Regions from separate parts of the Homo sapiens genome. Here region 1 is linked to region 2. Evidence: fine-mapped expression QTL. Tissue or cell type: lung. Region 2 holds a variant in brackets; the other region holds the start of a gene. All regions are shown on one strand. Distances are from middle to middle.

Region 1 (8,096 bases), 38 kb after region 2:
ATCACTTGAGGCCAGGAGTTCCAGACCAGCCTGGCCAATGGTGAAACCCCATCTCTACTAAAAATACAAAAATTAGCTGGGTGTGGTGGCGCGCACCTGTAGTCCCAACTACTCGGGAGGCTGAGGCAGGAGAATCGCTTGAACCCGGGAGGCAGAGGTTGCAGTGAGCCAAGATCTCACCACTGCACTCCAGCCTGGGTGAAAGAGCGAGACTCTGTCTCAATCAATCAATCAGTCAATCTAGGGAACCATCACCAGCACGGCCGAAGGCCAAAGGAAAACATCTGAAACATGTTATCTGGAAATGTAACAGACACATCCCATCATATAAAACCATTGTTCCCTGGGTATCCCCTTTGCAGACAGCCTGAGAGCCTCCTCTTTTTCCTGGGGCCATGGAGTCCTCGCGTATGAAGGTTGCATACATCCTCCTCCCAGTGCCCTCTTCAGGGCCTAGGTCTGCAGCCTCTTGTTTTGGGCACGCCTGCAAGGACAGTTGCAAGATGCATTCCCATGTGGAATTGCTGGGTGGAAGACAGGTGCACTTTCAGAGCTGATCACACAGCTATACTGCCGTGAAGAGCTGCACCCATTTATGCGGGTGCGGGTCACAGGCTCTGGGCGTGCCACGTCTGTGGGAAAAGCAGCTCCTCAGGAGAATTAGTGCCTTATTCCTAAAGGGAGGCCCAGAGCAAGCAGGGGCCGTTGTCACCCTCTTCCTCTGCACCCCTGCACGCATGCAGGGGAGAAGGACGAGTCTGGCTGCAGAGAGAAGTCCAGGATGCCTTCCAGGCAAAGGCTGCCAGGGAGAGCTGGCCCCTCAGTTGATTAAGGTCTCTCCTTTCTCCACCCAGATAGCCCGGAGACCATCGGCAGGCGAGTGGCTGTGGGACTCGGGTCCTGCCTCGCCATCCTCATCCTGGCAATCTGTGGGCTCAAGCTCCAGCGACGGTGAGCTCCTGCCATCCCCCACCACCTCCTCTATCCCTTGGCAGAGGCCCGTGTCCAGTTGCTCCATCTCGAAGCCTCCAGCCTGTGGAGTCCCTGACCCTCACACATGTGCCTTTATTTCTCAGTTGGAAGAGGACACAGAGCCAGCAGGGGCTTCAGGAGAATTCCAGCGGCCAGAGCTTCTTTGTGAGGAATAAAAAGGTAGGATGGGGCTGGGCACGATGGCTCATGCCTGTAATCCCAGCACTTTGGGAGGCTGAGGCAGGTGGATCACCTGAGGTCAGGAGTTCGAGACCAGCGTAGCCAACATGGTGAAACCCTGTCTCTACAAAAAATATTTTAAAAATTAGCCGGGCGTGATGGTCCATGCCTGTAATTCCAGCTACTCGGGAGGCTGAGGCAGGAGAATCGCTTGAACCTGGGAGGCAGAGGTTGCAGTGAGCCAAGATTGCGCCATTGCACTCCAGCCTGGGTGACATACTGAGACTCTGCCTCAAAAAAAAAAAAAAAAAAAAAAAAAGGGTAGGCATGAGGCAGACTGTGAAGCTGAGTGGGGAAACAAGGTGAAGGAAGGGGATAAAATGTCCTCTGAGGAGACCTGGGCTGTCAGAGGCCAGGGAAGGGGACGAGGGTTGGGGAACAGGTGGTTAGCACTTCATCCTCGTCTCCCTCCCAGGTTAGAAGGGCCCCCCTCTCTGAAGGCCCCCACTCCCTGGGATGCTACAATCCAATGATGGAAGATGGCATTAGCTACACCACCCTGCGCTTTCCCGAGATGAACATACCACGAACTGGGTACTGAGGGTACCAGGAGGGTGACCCTGCACCCTGGGAGGGAGGCGGGAGGAAAAGCTCTGTCCCGCCTGCCCTCTTTGTGCCAGGCCCATGCCAGGCACCCTGATACATGCTCTGCCTCATTCCCACTCGGCAACAAGCCTCTGGGTAAGGGCCAGTCTCCAGAAGTGGACCTGCTCCTTCAAGTCAGCAGCACACATGCCCAGTCCGTTCTTATCACAAAGATCAAGACCTCATGATACACACCCACGCCTACTCCCTCCACGCACATTTGCACGAGCTCCTACTGTGAGCTTTGGGCACTGGGGAGGCCACAGGTTTTACATAAGGGGCTGAGGTTGGGGTGCTGTTGGGGGCTCTGGGTGTTGAGAGGGAGGAGAGTTCGTGGGAGATGCTTCATGCGTGGTCGTCTATCTGCCCTGTCTCTCAGAGATGCAGAGTCCTCAGAGATGCAGAGACCTCCCCCGGACTGCGATGACACGGTCACTTATTCAGCATTGCACAAGCGCCAAGTGGTAAGGAGGGTCTCCCCAGGTCTCCCCAGAGGGGCTGTGGAAGGCTGGGGACAGGGCCTGGCCTCAGTGGTGGGTCCCACATAGGAAGGAGTTGGGTAGGCATCCGTGGTGGCAGAGGTTGGGTGTTGGAGACGGTTGCTCCGGCAGAGCTGGCCAGAGCCAGGCAGGTACCTCCAGGTCCTGGATGCCGGCCACAGCCAGTTTCCTGACACGAGGACACCCGCCTGGGCTTTTGGACCCCCGGGTGGAATGAAGGAGAGAATGCGGAGAAAAGCGGCGGTGGAGGCTGGCGACAGTGGGGCCAGGCTAACCACCATGCGGTTTTCTCAGGGCGACTATGAGAACGTCATTCCAGATTTTCCAGAAGATGAGGGGATTCATTACTCAGAGCTGATCCAGTTTGGGGTCGGGGAGCGGCCTCAGGCACAAGAAAATGTGGACTATGTGATCCTCAAACATTGACACTGGATGGGCTGCAGCAGAGGCACTGGGGGCAGCGGGGGCCAGGGAAGTCCCCGAGTTTCCCCAGACACCGCCACATGGCTTCCTCCTGCGCGCATGTGCGCACACACACACACACACGCACACACACACACACACACTCACTGCGGAGAACCTTGTGCCTGGCTCAGAGCCAGTCTTTTTGGTGAGGGTAACCCCAAACCTCCAAAACTCCTGCCCCTGTTCTCTTCCACTCTCCTTGCTACCCAGAAATCCATCTAAATACCTGCCCTGACATGCACACCTCCCCCTGCCCCCACCACGGCCACTGGCCATCTCCACCCCCAGCTGCTTGTGTCCCTCCTGGGATCTGCTCGTCATCATTTTTCCTTCCCTTCTCCATCTCTCTGGCCCTCTACCCCTGATCTGACATCCCCACTCACGAATATTATGCCCAGTTTCTGCCTCTGAGGGAAAGCCCAGAAAAGGACAGAAACGAAGTAGAAAGGGGCCCAGTCCTGGCCTGGCTTCTCCTTTGGAAGTGAGGCATTGCACGGGGAGACGTACGTATCAGCGGCCCCTTGACTCTGGGGACTCCGGGTTTGAGATGGACACACTGGTGTGGATTAACCTGCCAGGGAGACAGAGCTCACAATAAAAATGGCTCAGATGCCACTTCAAAGAACCAGTGAACTCTTTTCAGTCTGTGGAGTCAGAGTGGGGATGAGGAGAGGGGAAAGTCTTCATGGGGCCTGGGGGGAAGGAAATGGAGTCACAGTGGTTTACTGATCAAACCAGCAGATTAGAGAGTCTGGTGTCTTGTTAGGAAAAGCATACTGGCTTTGCAGACAGACAAACATGAGAACTTGAATCTTGATTCTTCGGCTTAACTAGCCCGGTGATCTTGGCAGGGCTCGCCAGCTTGCCTGAGTCTCGGCTTCTCCATCTGTAAAGTGGAGAGGGAAAGGCCACTGCCTACCACGCAGGTGGCCCACGATAGGAAGTGAGGCATCGTCTTCTATATGCTGGAGCCACATTGAGACCCAGCACAGAAGCCGAAAGTCCCCCAGAAAACCAACCTCCATCCTTTATTTGCATTTTTCGAAGAATGTGAAAAGGGGAAGCCGATTCAAAACAGCTCTTCCCAAAAGTGACGCTACCCAATTCTTGCACAACCCATAGCTGCCAGAGAAAGTCTTGAAGACCAGCCACCCTGAGAAACCTCACAGCTTTTCTGTCATTCGAGGTCCTCTGCACCCGTTCTCTAATTCTGTTCACTGATTCAGACTTTCCAGTTAGGTGCCCCAGCTCCCCTCTCCGCTTCTCGGGTTTGATCTTTCTCCACCCATTCACCTGCTTCTGCAAAGGGGCTAAAGCCCATTCTCCTTAGAGGGCAGGGGTGTAATTATCTGATCATCAGGGAGATTGGCTCCTGGCACGTGGCAGGTGTCCCCAAACTGCCACCTTCCTCTCCCACCTTCCTTTCCCTCCCATCTCTGCTCAGTACCCGGACGGTAACTCTAGGAATTATGGTTCAGGGAGGCCTTGATCGCCCCATCAATCCACTTTGTCCCTGGTTTGATTCTTGTGAGCACCATTAACTTTTCTGGAGGAAGGTGAGGCTTTAAGAACTGTTTAAAGCCCAGGCGTGGTGGATCACGCCTGTAATCACAGCACTCTGGGAGGCCAAGGTGGGCAGATCACCTGAGGTCAGGAGTTCAAGACCAGCCTAGCCAACATGGTAAAATCCTGTCTCTACCAAAAATACAAAAATTAGCTGAGCGTGGTGATTCACACCTGTAATCTCAGCTACTTGGGAGGCTGAGGCAGGAGAGTCGCTTGAACCTGGGAGGCGGAGGTAGCGGTGAGCCGAGATCACGCCACTGCACTCCAGCCTATGCAACAGAGTGAGACTCCGCCTCAAAACAACAACAACAAAAACTGTTTAAATGAGACAGGAGGGTGTTGGGGTGTCTGTGCCCAAAATGGGGTCTGGTGTCATTCAACTCTTTCTTCATTCATTCTGCACACAGATACTGAGCACCTGGAAATGCACCCAGTACAGAGCCAGTTGTTAGGACACCAAAAAGATAAGGCGTAGGACCAACCTTGGGGATCTCTAGTCGAGAGCCGCCAAGGGTTTTTAAGGCAAGATACCCTGGAGGGAGCTGAGGCAGTCCTAAGCCTGAAGGGCCTGGCTTAAGCTCCCTGGCAACCATCGAGCATCTTCCCCTTCCCACCCTGTCCCTCAGCACAGCTGCTGACATAAACCTACTACATGGCTGATTGACCATGAGATATGGCCATCAATAGACATTGCTGAGGCGTGAAGAGCAGGTGAAGAGCAGGTGGCCAGGAAGCTAGGGGGCCAGGACTCCAGACGCAGGCCGCCCTCCACAACCCCAGCTCTCACAGTCCTCCCAGGGTCCAGACAATGGATCGTGCATTTAGGTTCCCAAACACCTGCTGTGCAACGTGTAGTAGACAAAGCAGACCAAAGCCTTTGCCCTCAGGAGGCCGGCATTCTAGCTCAGGAGCCAGCCAAGACGATGTCGCACTGAAGAAAGACAACAAAAGTGAGATTCACAGGAGGGATGAGTGTGGCTGAGGCACCCGGGAAGGCCCTCGGAGAAGGTGACCTTGGGCAAAGATCCAGACGCCAGGTGGGTGGGGCCAAAGCAGAGAAGATCTGGAAAACCCAATGGCTCCCCAGGGCTTCGCTCTTGCTGCAGGAGGGGAAACCACACTGCTGTGGATTCTTCCTCCATTCTGTCCATTTCTCAGTTCCCAACAACACACTGAACAGTAGGAGGCCAGTTCTCCGCTCACAGCGGGCGCTGCACCCCAGGTGCTGCTCTCGAGAAAAAGGCGAGCATGGACCAATTTAGTGGCTCCGAGGTATGAAAAGCAGTGAGATGGTGTCTTTGAGGGAGTTAGTGATAGGCTGAGACCCCCTTGCTGTCCCCCCTGAAGCCTGGTGACCAGAGCTGCCAGGAGGCCACACAGAGAGAGGTTTATGATGGGGGACCTGGAATTCGGAAGGGGCAGAGTGGTCAGGTGACCCATACACGCCTGAGAAAACTGATGTGGAGAGCTGTGTTGTCATTCTGAGGCAGGAAATAGAGACAGACTGACAGACAGACAGAAAGACACGGGCACATTGAGAGACAGAGACAGAATCACAGAGCAGAGCTGGCTTCTCACCAGCAGGCGTGGGCACACCTGAGAGAGCATCCAGAGAGGTTAGAAATCTTCCTTAGGTCCTCCTGGGAGGCTCAGGTGACCCCAGTGGGAAACATGAAAGGCTGGGAGGACTTCCAGGGCTGAGAGAAGGAAGCTACGCAGCCGGCCGGTGCCACATTCCCTGTGCCTTGGGGAGTGTCCCCCAGTGTCCCCAGCCATGCACCCTGGGGGGAGTCGGCTTGGACATCTGTGCCACCCCTTGACAGGCAGAGTGGGGGCCACAACCTGGGCCCTCCAGTGCTGGTCAGCAGAGGCTGCCCCCGCCCCTTGCCTTCCTCCTCCCGCTCCTTCCTCCAGCCCTGGGAAGGTCGGAAGCCACCACCATGGGGCTAGTGCGGAAGCAGAGGGAGAACAGAGGGGCCCTCCTCGCAAAAACTAAAACAAGCCCACAGCCTGTGCAGAACCGCACCCGGGTGTGATCACTCCTTACCCCACACACCCACTGCCACTTGGAGATGGCTTCATGGCTGCAGTCACAGGGCACCCTGTGTTGTCAGGGGTGAGCCAGTGAGGCCCGGGACCTGCCCAGGGGTGCATCAAGGGTGGAGAAGACCTGGCCCCAGCGCAGGTGTGAACAGGCAGGAGGGCTGGGGAGGGAATAGCGCTGGGTTGTGGCCGAGCCCCCAAGCCCTGCTCTTGAGAGGCACTGGCTACACACTCGGCCCCTACCCAGACAGGACCCCAATTCCTCCCTGGCCCCTCTGTGTTCCTGCATCTTCCCAGCCCCTCACCTCCTCTGGCGTGGCCTCACCTCCAGCCGGGATGCCCCATTAGCTGCTCACCCAAGCTGCTAGAACCTCAGGCTAATGGCCCTGTCACCCGCCCTCCTCCCCTTCCGGCTCACTGCCCATCCCGGGCATCCTCCATCAGCCCGCTGAGGGGACTGCTGAGCCTCAGAGACATCTGGCAGCACCAGGAGGTGGGTCCCTCTCTCTGTGGCTCCTCTCTTCACCTGACTGTTCCCCAGACCCCCAGACCCCCTGCCCAGGTGGCCCCTGAGAACTGCTAAGCTCAACCGTGACATGGATGGGGCCTGGCTGACCCTTGGGCTCTCCCTGGGGGACCCCCTTTTCCTGTCCCTGGCCACACCCTCACCTTATCCACACCCTTCTCCTCCCTGCTGCCCCGCCGGCTTTCCAATGTGGGTGGGGGGTGGGGGCAGCTCCTGCCTTGCCAGGGAACCAGGGAGGGCAGTGGGCTCAGGAGTCAAACTCCCATTCCCAGGGAAGGCTCAGGCTGTGGGCCCAGCCCTGTTCTGAATTCTCTCCACCCCTCCTCCCCACAGAGTCTCAGAAATCGAGAAGCTTTCTTCCTCTGGGACCTGTGCGCCACATCCTATCTCCTGTGACGCTGCAGGAGCTTCCCTGGTTTTAAGAGGTGACATGGTGGAGAGAAAGCACAGGACTGGGGGCCACAGGTCCTGGCTTCTCATCCAGGCTCCGCTGCTCCCTGACTGCTGCCTTTCTCTGTGGGCCTCGTTTCCTCCCTGATCCCACCAGGTGAATTGTAATTCTCCACACAGGGCTGGAACCCGCGAGTGATCCCAGGAGCCCCTCCTCTCCGGGGCCCCAAGATCTGAGGACAGGGAGCCAGGTTGCACACAGGAGCCGTGCAGGCCAGGACGGCGGCCCCATGGACCTGCCCCCGCAGCTCTCCTTCGGCCTCTATGTGGCCGCCTTTGCGCTGGGCTTCCCGCTCAACGTCCTGGCCATCCGAGGCGCGACGGCCCACGCCCGGCTCCGTCTCACCCCTAGCCTGGTCTACGCCCTGAACCTGGGCTGCTCCGACCTGCTGCTGACAGTCTCTCTGCCCCTGAAGGCGGTGGAGGCGCTAGCCTCCGGGGCCTGGCCTCTGCCGGCCTCGCTGTGCCCCGTCTTCGCGGTGGCCCACTTCTTCCCACTCTATGCCGGCGGGGGCTTCCTGGCCGCCCTGAGTGCAGGCCGCTACCTGGGAGCAGCCTTCCCCTTGGGCTACCAAGCCTTCCGGAGGCCGTGCTATTCCTGGGGGGTGTGCGCGGCCATCTGGGCCCTCGTCCTGTGTCACCTGGGTCTGGTCTTTGGGTTGGAGGCTCCAGGAGGCTGGCTGGACCACAGCAACACCTCCCTGGGCATCAACACACCGGTCAACGGCTCTCCGGTCTGCCTGGAGGCC
Region 2 (8,096 bases):
AGGTTTTGCTCATGTGACCTCTCTGCGGGAATGGTTCTGTCTATCCACCCATGAGTACTTGGGTGGGATGTTACGTATTTTTAATTTTAATTTTTTATTTTTTTGAGACAGGGTCTTGCTCTGTTGCCCAGGCTGGAATGCAGTGGTTTGATCATCGCTCACTGCAGCCTCAACCTCCTGGGCTCAACTGATTCTCACACTTCAGCCTCCTGAGTAGCTGGGACTACAGGCACACATCACCATGCCCAGTTAATGTTTTAATTTTTTGTAGAGATGGGGTCTTGCTCTGTTGCCCAGGCTGGTCTCAAACTCCTGGGCTCAAGTGATCCTCCTGCCTTGGCCTCCCAAAGTGCTGGAATGACAGGTGTGAGCCACTGCACCCGGCTGGGATGTTAAGTGTTTACAACACACTTGCGCGCCTATCTTCGGAGTCCCGTAGCCCCTTGTGAGTTACTGACTGTAACCCCCTGGTTTGCACAGATGAGAACTCCATCCTAGAGGCCCAGGAGCCTGAGTGGCCTCACCCAGCCAGTAGATGGCAGAGCTGGGATTCAAGCCAAATCCATCCCACCACAAACTCCTCATTCTTTGTACCTTTGTCTTACAGGTTTGTCTAGAGTCCCATAACAGTTTCCGCAGCTTCACAGGTTGTCTGAAAAGATACTAAGCACGTGCACCGGCAGGGTGTCGGCGTTCCGCCGACATCCAGGTCGAACACTTTGTCACCAGAGCACCAGTGGGGCTGTCTTGAGTGGAAGTGCTTTGAAAAAGTTTTATGTCTGTCGGTTCAGGTTCGCTGTTATTAATGTACTCCGTGGCGTGTTAGCTGGTTAACGCTATAGCAAGCATATTGCAGCTCTGCCCGAACAGGACTTTTTATTCAGTAGACTTAGAGATGTTTGCACAGAGGTTCCCATTCCTGCCGTGAATCCGTGTGCCCGTGTGACTCCCAGGTCCACCACCGTTACCGGCACATTCTTTTTGCTAGCAATTGAAAATAGGTGGGGTAGGTGAGCCAAGGGTCTCTTGCCTGTGTGTAAGTGGGTTTTGGTGAGAACTCACTGAGAACCAGTGCTCAGTCTAGAGCAAGCCAAGGAGGGTGCTGGACTCTCAGGCCAAGAAAGAGAACACAGTTTAAAAAGCAGCATTCTGTGCTGTAATACAATTGCGTATTTTGGTACAAAAATTAGCCAGGCATGGTGGCACGCACGTGTAGTCCCAGCTACTCAAGAGGCTGAGGCAGGACAATCACTTGAACCTGGGAGGCAGAGGTTGCAGTGAGCAGAGATCGTGCCACTGCACTCCAGCCTGGGCGACAGAGAGACTCCGTCTCAAAAATCATAGTAATAACAATAATAATAATAATAATTTCCTGTTTTGGAAAATGAAAGAAAAAACCTACCAGTACTATTTTTGTAATCCAGTGGCAGCAAAGCAAAGCTCAACCAAGTGACTTTGGGTGGAGGGTGGTGTTTGGTGCTAGTGGCAGGAGGGAATCTCATGGGTGAGGAAGGGCCGGGGTTCAAGGCGGCTTTAGGGGAGGAAGTGGGGGGCATCTGCAGCGCAGACTGAAAGGAAGGAGCACAGCCTGGAAGCCAGAAAGGAGGGGATAGTCTAAGCCTGTGTGAGCCCCAAGGGTCTGGGGAGGCCGGGGGCTGGGAGAGTTCCATGGTTCCTCCCTTCTACGTGTGGGGCCCAGAGTGGAGAAGGAGCAAGCCCCTGTCTTGATGGAAACAGGAGGCCCCTTATGTAAGTGTGTGATGCAGGGAGGGTGAGTGCTGGGGAGGAGAACTGAGTGAGGCAGGGAGTGAATGATACGTGGAGCGAGGTGCAGCTTCCCTGGGTGGTCAGAGAAGGAGACGCCGCATGGGTAGAGGCCAGTTTGGAGCGAGGGAGGGCGTTCCACAGGCAACTGATGGAAGTGTTCCAAGTTGAGGGAGAAACGTACAGACCCTGGAGTGGGAGAAAGCTCCACGATTTTCAGACACAGCAAGGAACCGGTGTGGCTGGAAAGGACTAAGCCAGGGGGAGAGAAGGAGAGAGTGTGTGGTCAGGCAGGGCCTGAGGGGCCTTGTAGATGAAAGACTTTGTATTTTGGGCTGGGCACAGTGGCTTGCGCCTTATAATCCCAGCACTTTGGGAGGCCAAGGCAGGAGGATTGCTTGAGCTCAGGAGTTCAAGACCAGCATGGGGAACATAGCAAGACCCTGTCTCTACAAAAACAAACAAAAACCCTCCAGTAACTATCATGAGTATGACAGATTTACCGTCCTCTGCAATTCTGAACATAAAGCTTTAAAATCAAAAGGCTTTTTGCAAATTTGGCACCACCCTGATTTGACAGCAAAATCTCGCCTAAAGAACACAAGGCTGTTTGTAATCTATACTGATTTCATTTAGGGTGAATATTCGTACTTTTTGCTGTATACATTACATTGAACTATGTGAAATTTTTTCTGCATGTCAAAAATGGTCAAATGTGGCTGGGCGCAGTGGCTTATGCCTGTAATCCCAGCACTTTGGGAGGCTGAGGCGGGAGGATCACTAGAGGCCAAGAGTGCAAATGAGCTATAGTACTGCCACTGCACTTCAGCCTGGGCGACAGGGCCAGACCCTGTCTCTAAACGATAAAAAATAAAGGATTTGTATTTTAGGTGAACCACGGAGCAACAGAAGGAGGGTTTTGAGCAGAGAGTGCCATGATCTGATTTATGTATTACAAGGTGAATGAGGTTAGAGAGAGTGTAAGAGCCAGGGCCCAGGAGAAACGGCCCGTCCCTGTGACATAGTGCTCTGTCCAGGCTGAAGCTGAGGCTAGAGTCGCCTCAAAAGTGGCACCAGAAGAATTGCCCCAAGAGAGCACCCCAAACCACCCCGAAATGAGGCCACTTGGGATTCCAAAGAGAGAGGCACTAAACCACCAGGTGATCATCAGTCCAAAGCATTTGGGAGGGGAACTTGCACAGTGCTACGGCGAGAGAAAGGGAGGGTCTACCCAGACACGTCCGTGAGGGTCAGGGTATGGGTTTACATGAGGGTTTAAGGAATTTGGCCCAGGGCTGGGGCTGGTTTCTTTCATTCTTTCATTTTTGTTGTTGTTGTTGTTTGGGGTTTTTTTGAGACAGCGTCTCATTCTGTAACCTCTCGTACTCCTGACCTCAAGTGATCCACTCACTCTTCGGCCTCGCAAAGTGCTAGGATTACAGCAGTGAGCCACCATGCCCGGCCTCTTTCAGTGTTTTGAGCAACAACCTAAACACCTTTATCAGTGCCTGGGAATGTTCAAGGCCCCAGGCGTGGGTTAGTGAAGCTTGCAGTGAAAACAGGCAGCCGGCGGGGTCGTAGTGAGGTCAAGGCGCTCTCAGTCAGGACAGAGAAAAAAGGAGGGGAAATTGGAGGGCCCTACA[G/T]GAAGCTACCGCCCCCATCCTTGGCCACACTGGCCTTGCCTTGAGCCAAGGAGTCTCCGGGGCCGGGCCTCGCGTTGGCTCCGGGCCACCCTCAGACCTGATTTTGCCCCTGCAGTCGCCCCTGTGCTCCTCCTGGAGTCCCACTGCGCGGCAGCCCGAGACACGGTGCAGTGCCTGTGCGTGGTGAAGTCCAACCCGGAGCCGTCCGTGGCCTTTGAGCTGCCATCGCGCAATGTGACCGTGAACGAGAGCGAGCGGGAGTTCGTGTACTCGGAGCGCAGCGGCCTCGTGCTCACCAGCATCCTCACGCTGCGGGGGCAGGCCCAGGCCCCGCCCCGCGTCATCTGCACCGCGAGGAACCTCTATGGCGCCAAGAGCCTGGAGCTGCCCTTCCAGGGAGCCCGTGAGTGGCGTGGACTTGGGGTGGGAGCCACAGGAGGGAGCGGGCACGTCTTAGATCCAAGCTCCCAAGGCTGACCAACAGCCACAGAGCATGGGCTATGCAGATTGACAGAAAGGTCAAATTCTCCCTTTCCGGTTGGAGAGGAGAAGCCGCCCTGAGTTTGCCCCGAGTTTGCTAGGACCTTTGAGGCATGAGCCCCTCCCCAGGGCCCTCTAGCATGAAAGGGATTGCCCTGGCACGAGGAGGCTCCGTGCCAATCAGTCAGTGCAAGGATGCCCCGGCTGTGTGACTACATTGACTGTCATCCCAGCATGTCTCCAAAGTTCTCAGGTGTCGTCACCACCACCCATAGCCCTAAGGGCGCCTGGGTCTTTTCTGTCCTCAGATCGACTGATGTGGGCCAAGATCGGGCCTGTGGGCGCCGTGGTCGCCTTTGCCATCCTGATTGCCATCGTCTGCTACATTACCCAGACACGCAGGAAGTGAGTGCCAGCTGGGGCTGATCTGGGGATGGGAGTCTCCAAAAAGGGGACCTGGTGGGAGATGGAGGCCCAGAGTGGGTGGGGGAAGGCAGCACCATAAGTGTAGAGAAGGCAGATTCTGTTCTGGGAATGTTCAGCTGGACAGAGGAGAGAGGGTTCCTGTTAATTCCAGCCCCTGCTGGTCAGGGGCACACCAGGGCCTGGGCTGAGCCCTTTACACACATCATTTGAGACCTGTTTGCCCACATTCTATTTTGACAGCCTCCCTATCTCTAGGAACTCTCCCCTACACACTCCAGTGTGGTGGGGAAAGCCCAGGTACCCCACTGCAGCCACAGCAGCAGGTCCACTTGACGCCAGAAGCCCCAAAGATTACACACATCTGGGGCAAAAAAAAAATAGGCCTTGGCCGGGCGCGTTGACTCACGCCTGTTATCCCGCACTTTAGGAGGCCAAGGAGGAAGGATTGCTTGAGGCCAGGAATCTGACACCAGCCTGGGCAACATAGCAAGACCACATCTCTAAAAAAAATTTTTTTTTAATTAGCCAGGCATGGTGGCACACACTGTAGTCCCAGCTACTTGGGAGGCTGAGGTGGAACGATTCTTGAGCTCAGGAATTAGAGGCCAGCCTGGGCAACATAGGGAGACCCCATCTACAAAAAAACAAAAAAATTAGCTACTAGTGGCACGTGCCTGTTGTCCCAGCTACTCGGGAGGCTGAGGAGGGAAGATCGCTTGAGCCTGGGAGGTTGAGGCTGTAGTGAGCTATGATTTCACCACTGTACTCCAGCCTAGGTGACAAAGAGAGACCCTGTCTCTAAAAACAAACAAACAGACAGACAGACAGACAGAAAGCCTCTCCAGCCCCAAACCATACCCACCTGGCCCAACTCAGCTGCAGCCGTGTTTCTTTCTTGTGGCACACACACATCAGCTGTCCTGAGAAATAAATTAACCCCTCTGCTCCACATCCTGGTGGCAAGAGGGGCAGAAAGACCCAGAGCCTATGAGGGGAACCTGGAGAATCCAGGTGGGGGTCCTGAAAAACGGCAGAGCTCAGGGGCCAGGTGGCTCGTCCCCAGCCGGGCAGGGGCCACAGAGGTGGGAAGGATGGGCTGTGTGGGTAGGAGAGGCTGGTGGTTCTGAAAGGGCTGCTTGCCACATCTTAGAGATGGGTGGGAGAACTCTGAGGTCCCCTGAGCCAAACTCCTAAAACACGTGGGGGTGCAGAAAGGGAGGGCAGAGAGAGGTCTGACGAGTCCTGCCCTGCAGAAAGAACGTGACAGAGAGCCCCAGCTTCTCGGCAGGGGACAACCCTCCCGTCCTGTTCAGCAGCGACTTCCGCATCTCTGGGGCACCAGAGAAGTACGAGGTAAGGACCAGGCTCCAGGCTGGCCTGGGAACCTGGATGCCAGGGACACTGAAGGCCTGGGAAAGGCCTGTGAGGCCAAGGGGCAGGGGAGTGGGAGCGGCCTCTCACAGGAGGAGAGGAAGGACATTCCAGGGCTGGGTTGGACCTGGAGGCTGGGGAGGAGGTGCCCAGGCCGAAGCTGTGTAGGGGGCGATGGGACGTGGGGCCTAAGGGCCCCCTCCCCTCCCTGCCTGTGTCTGTGACTGCATTTCCTTCTCCAATAGTCCAAAGAGGTTTCTACCCTGGAATCTCACTGAGTGCCCCAGGAGGTAGGTTCCGGGGGCCTCAGTGTGCCCTCCTCTGGGCCCTCCTTGGGCCCTGGGGTTGGCGTGCATGTCCGTGTGTCCCTGTCAGGCGTCAAGGTGGTCTCTGGTGATGTCCGGGCCTGCCCGGCAGTGCTGGCCTTGTCTAGTCTGTCCTGTTGCAGCTCCCTTCTGTCTGTGGCCACCGTCCTGTGTGTCCAAATTCCTGTGGCTAGGGGGTGGAGGGAGGGGTGGGAAGCGTGGGGGGAACCCACATGTCACCTGCAGGACCTCCCAGATTGAGGGCGGACCCATGCAGGACCCATGGGGGGGCACGTACCAAACCAGGTATTTCCAGGAATTTGGAAAGATGGGGTCCTGACTAGGTGGTTTTCACCCAAAAAGGTATTAGGGGTTACATTGTGTGCCCTCAAAACTCCTATGTTGAAAGCTTCCTGGACGGGGGCAGTGGCTCACACCTGTAATCCCACAACTTTGGGAATCTGAGGCGGATGGATCACTTGAGGTCAGGAGTTTGAGACCAGCCTGGCCAACATGGTGAAACCCTGTCTCTACTAAAAATACAAAAAATTAGCCAGGCGTGTTGGCAGGTGCCTGTAATCCCAGCTACTTGGGAGGCTGAGGCAGGAGAATTGCTGGAACCCAGGAAGTGGAGGCTGCAGTGAGCAAAGATCGAGCCATTGCAATCCAGCCTGGGTCTCAAAGAAAAAGAAGAAGAAGAAGCAGCTTCCTGGAGAAACTGAATTTGTAGGCAAATTTCAAGTTCAGCAATGATTAACACTGGCAGAAGCTCCAGAGTGGGACCTGGTGACCGCAGGGCTCGCTGGGCCTGCGGTCCTTGAGAAAGGAGGTTCTCGCAGGGATTTATTTGGGACTGAACTCAGGAGCTCTGAGGGTGCAAACGCTCTGTCCTCTGCATTGGGAAAAGGCAGGGAGCAGGACCCTGCTAATGGGCGGTTTCCCCTCTTAGAGCGAGAGGCGCCTGGGATCTGAGAGGAGGCTGCTGGGCCTTCGGGGTGAGCCCCCAGAGCTGGACCTGAGCTATTCTCACTCGGACCTGGGGAAACGGCCCACCAAGGACAGCTACACGCTGACGGAGGAGCTAGCTGAGTATGCTGAAATCCGGGTCAAGTGAAGGAGCTGGGGGCAGCCTGCGTGGCTGACCCCCCTCAGGACCCTCGCTGGCCCCCACTGGCTGTGGGCTCCCTTCCTCCCAAAAGTATCGGGGGCTGGGGCAGGAGGGGAGTGAGGCAGGTGACAGTGAGGTCCTGGGGGCCTGACCTCCCCCTCCTTCCCAGCTGCCCCTCCCTGCCAGCACCCCCACGCCCTCATTACGGCTCCTCTCTAACCTCCTTTACCCTCATCTGTCTGGAGGGGAGCTCTGTCTGTCCGTGTTATTTATTGCTACTTCCTGCCTGGTCTCCTGCCCCCACACCTGGCCCTGGGGCCTGTACAAAAGGGACATGAAATAAATGCCCCAAAGCCAAATGCCAGTCTAGATCCTGATGCTTTCTGACCCGCCTTTGGGCAGCCTGCCATCCCACCGTCTACAGAACGATGACAGAATTTCTCCTTGCCCTCGGCTGAGCCTGGTATGCAGGCAAGGGCCCAGGGATTTTAGCCTTGAACCCAGGGCCAGTGGCCACTAAGTTGCTCCCACTCTGAGCTGGTAGCTGCGAGCTGGGTCTGGTTTGACTTATGGATGATTTCACATAAAAATCCTCATGCTGGTTTTTGCCGCAGTCAGATCAGCTGACAGCACCAGGCTTGCACTTGTACGTGGACATGACTTGCTGAAAGGGAGGGTCCTGTGCACTGGCCGCAGTCCCCACCACTCCCTATTGTCCCACACCTGGCCGGCTTCCTGCACTGAGATTACCTCCTGGTCCCTGCAGCTTGGAGTGCGAGCCACAGATCTAGGTCTCACCAGCCCGTGTTGGTTTCACCACCATCTCTCACATTCATGCTGCAATTTGCAGCGTCAGCCTTTATACATCACTACATTCAGTTCCAGAAACATTAATTAAGCACCAGCTGTATACTGAGCCCTTTCTAGAGGCTCAGGCTGTCCTGAGAAGGGTCTCCTAGGACAGCTCTGTGACGATGAGAACACTGAGACTTAGAGAAG

Evidence for each region. PIP is the estimated chance that this variant, and not a neighbour inherited with it, causes the effect.
Region 1: FFAR1 starts here. The variant in region 2 is fine-mapped to the expression of FFAR1 in lung (TOPMed, PIP above 0.99). The same link has a PIP of 0.9 or more in adrenal gland, spleen, thyroid, transverse colon and uterus.

The regions. Positions count from the first base shown.
Region 1 is chr19:35,343,975-35,352,070 of GRCh38, forward strand. FFAR1 (free fatty acid receptor 1) reads left to right here and starts at 3,928. Exons shown (of 2, transcript NM_005303.3): 1 at 3,928-6,864; 2 at 7,231-8,096. The coding sequence starts at 7,578. It overlaps CD22 (CD22 molecule), which reads left to right. Exons shown (of 14, transcript NM_001771.4): 10 at 855-951; 11 at 1,077-1,152; 12 at 1,628-1,746; 13 at 2,177-2,261; 14 at 2,592-3,387. The coding sequence ends at 2,723. It overlaps MIR5196 (microRNA 5196), which reads left to right and starts at 1,539; the gene lies at 1,539-1,653. RefSeq lists enhancers at 2,420-2,669, 3,000-3,099, 3,700-3,779, 6,193-6,242, 6,283-6,422 and a silencer at 5,058-5,258.
Region 2 is chr19:35,306,352-35,314,447 of GRCh38, forward strand. It overlaps MAG (myelin associated glycoprotein), which reads left to right. Exons shown (of 11, transcript NM_002361.4): 8 at 3,523-3,810; 9 at 4,196-4,292; 10 at 5,567-5,666; 11 at 6,939-7,456. The coding sequence ends at 7,103. Among named protein-coding and RNA genes, the nearest start is that of MAG, 18 kb to the left of the region's middle. RefSeq lists enhancers at 5,095-5,596, 5,597-6,096. The variant G/T (reference allele first, on the strand shown) is at 3,408.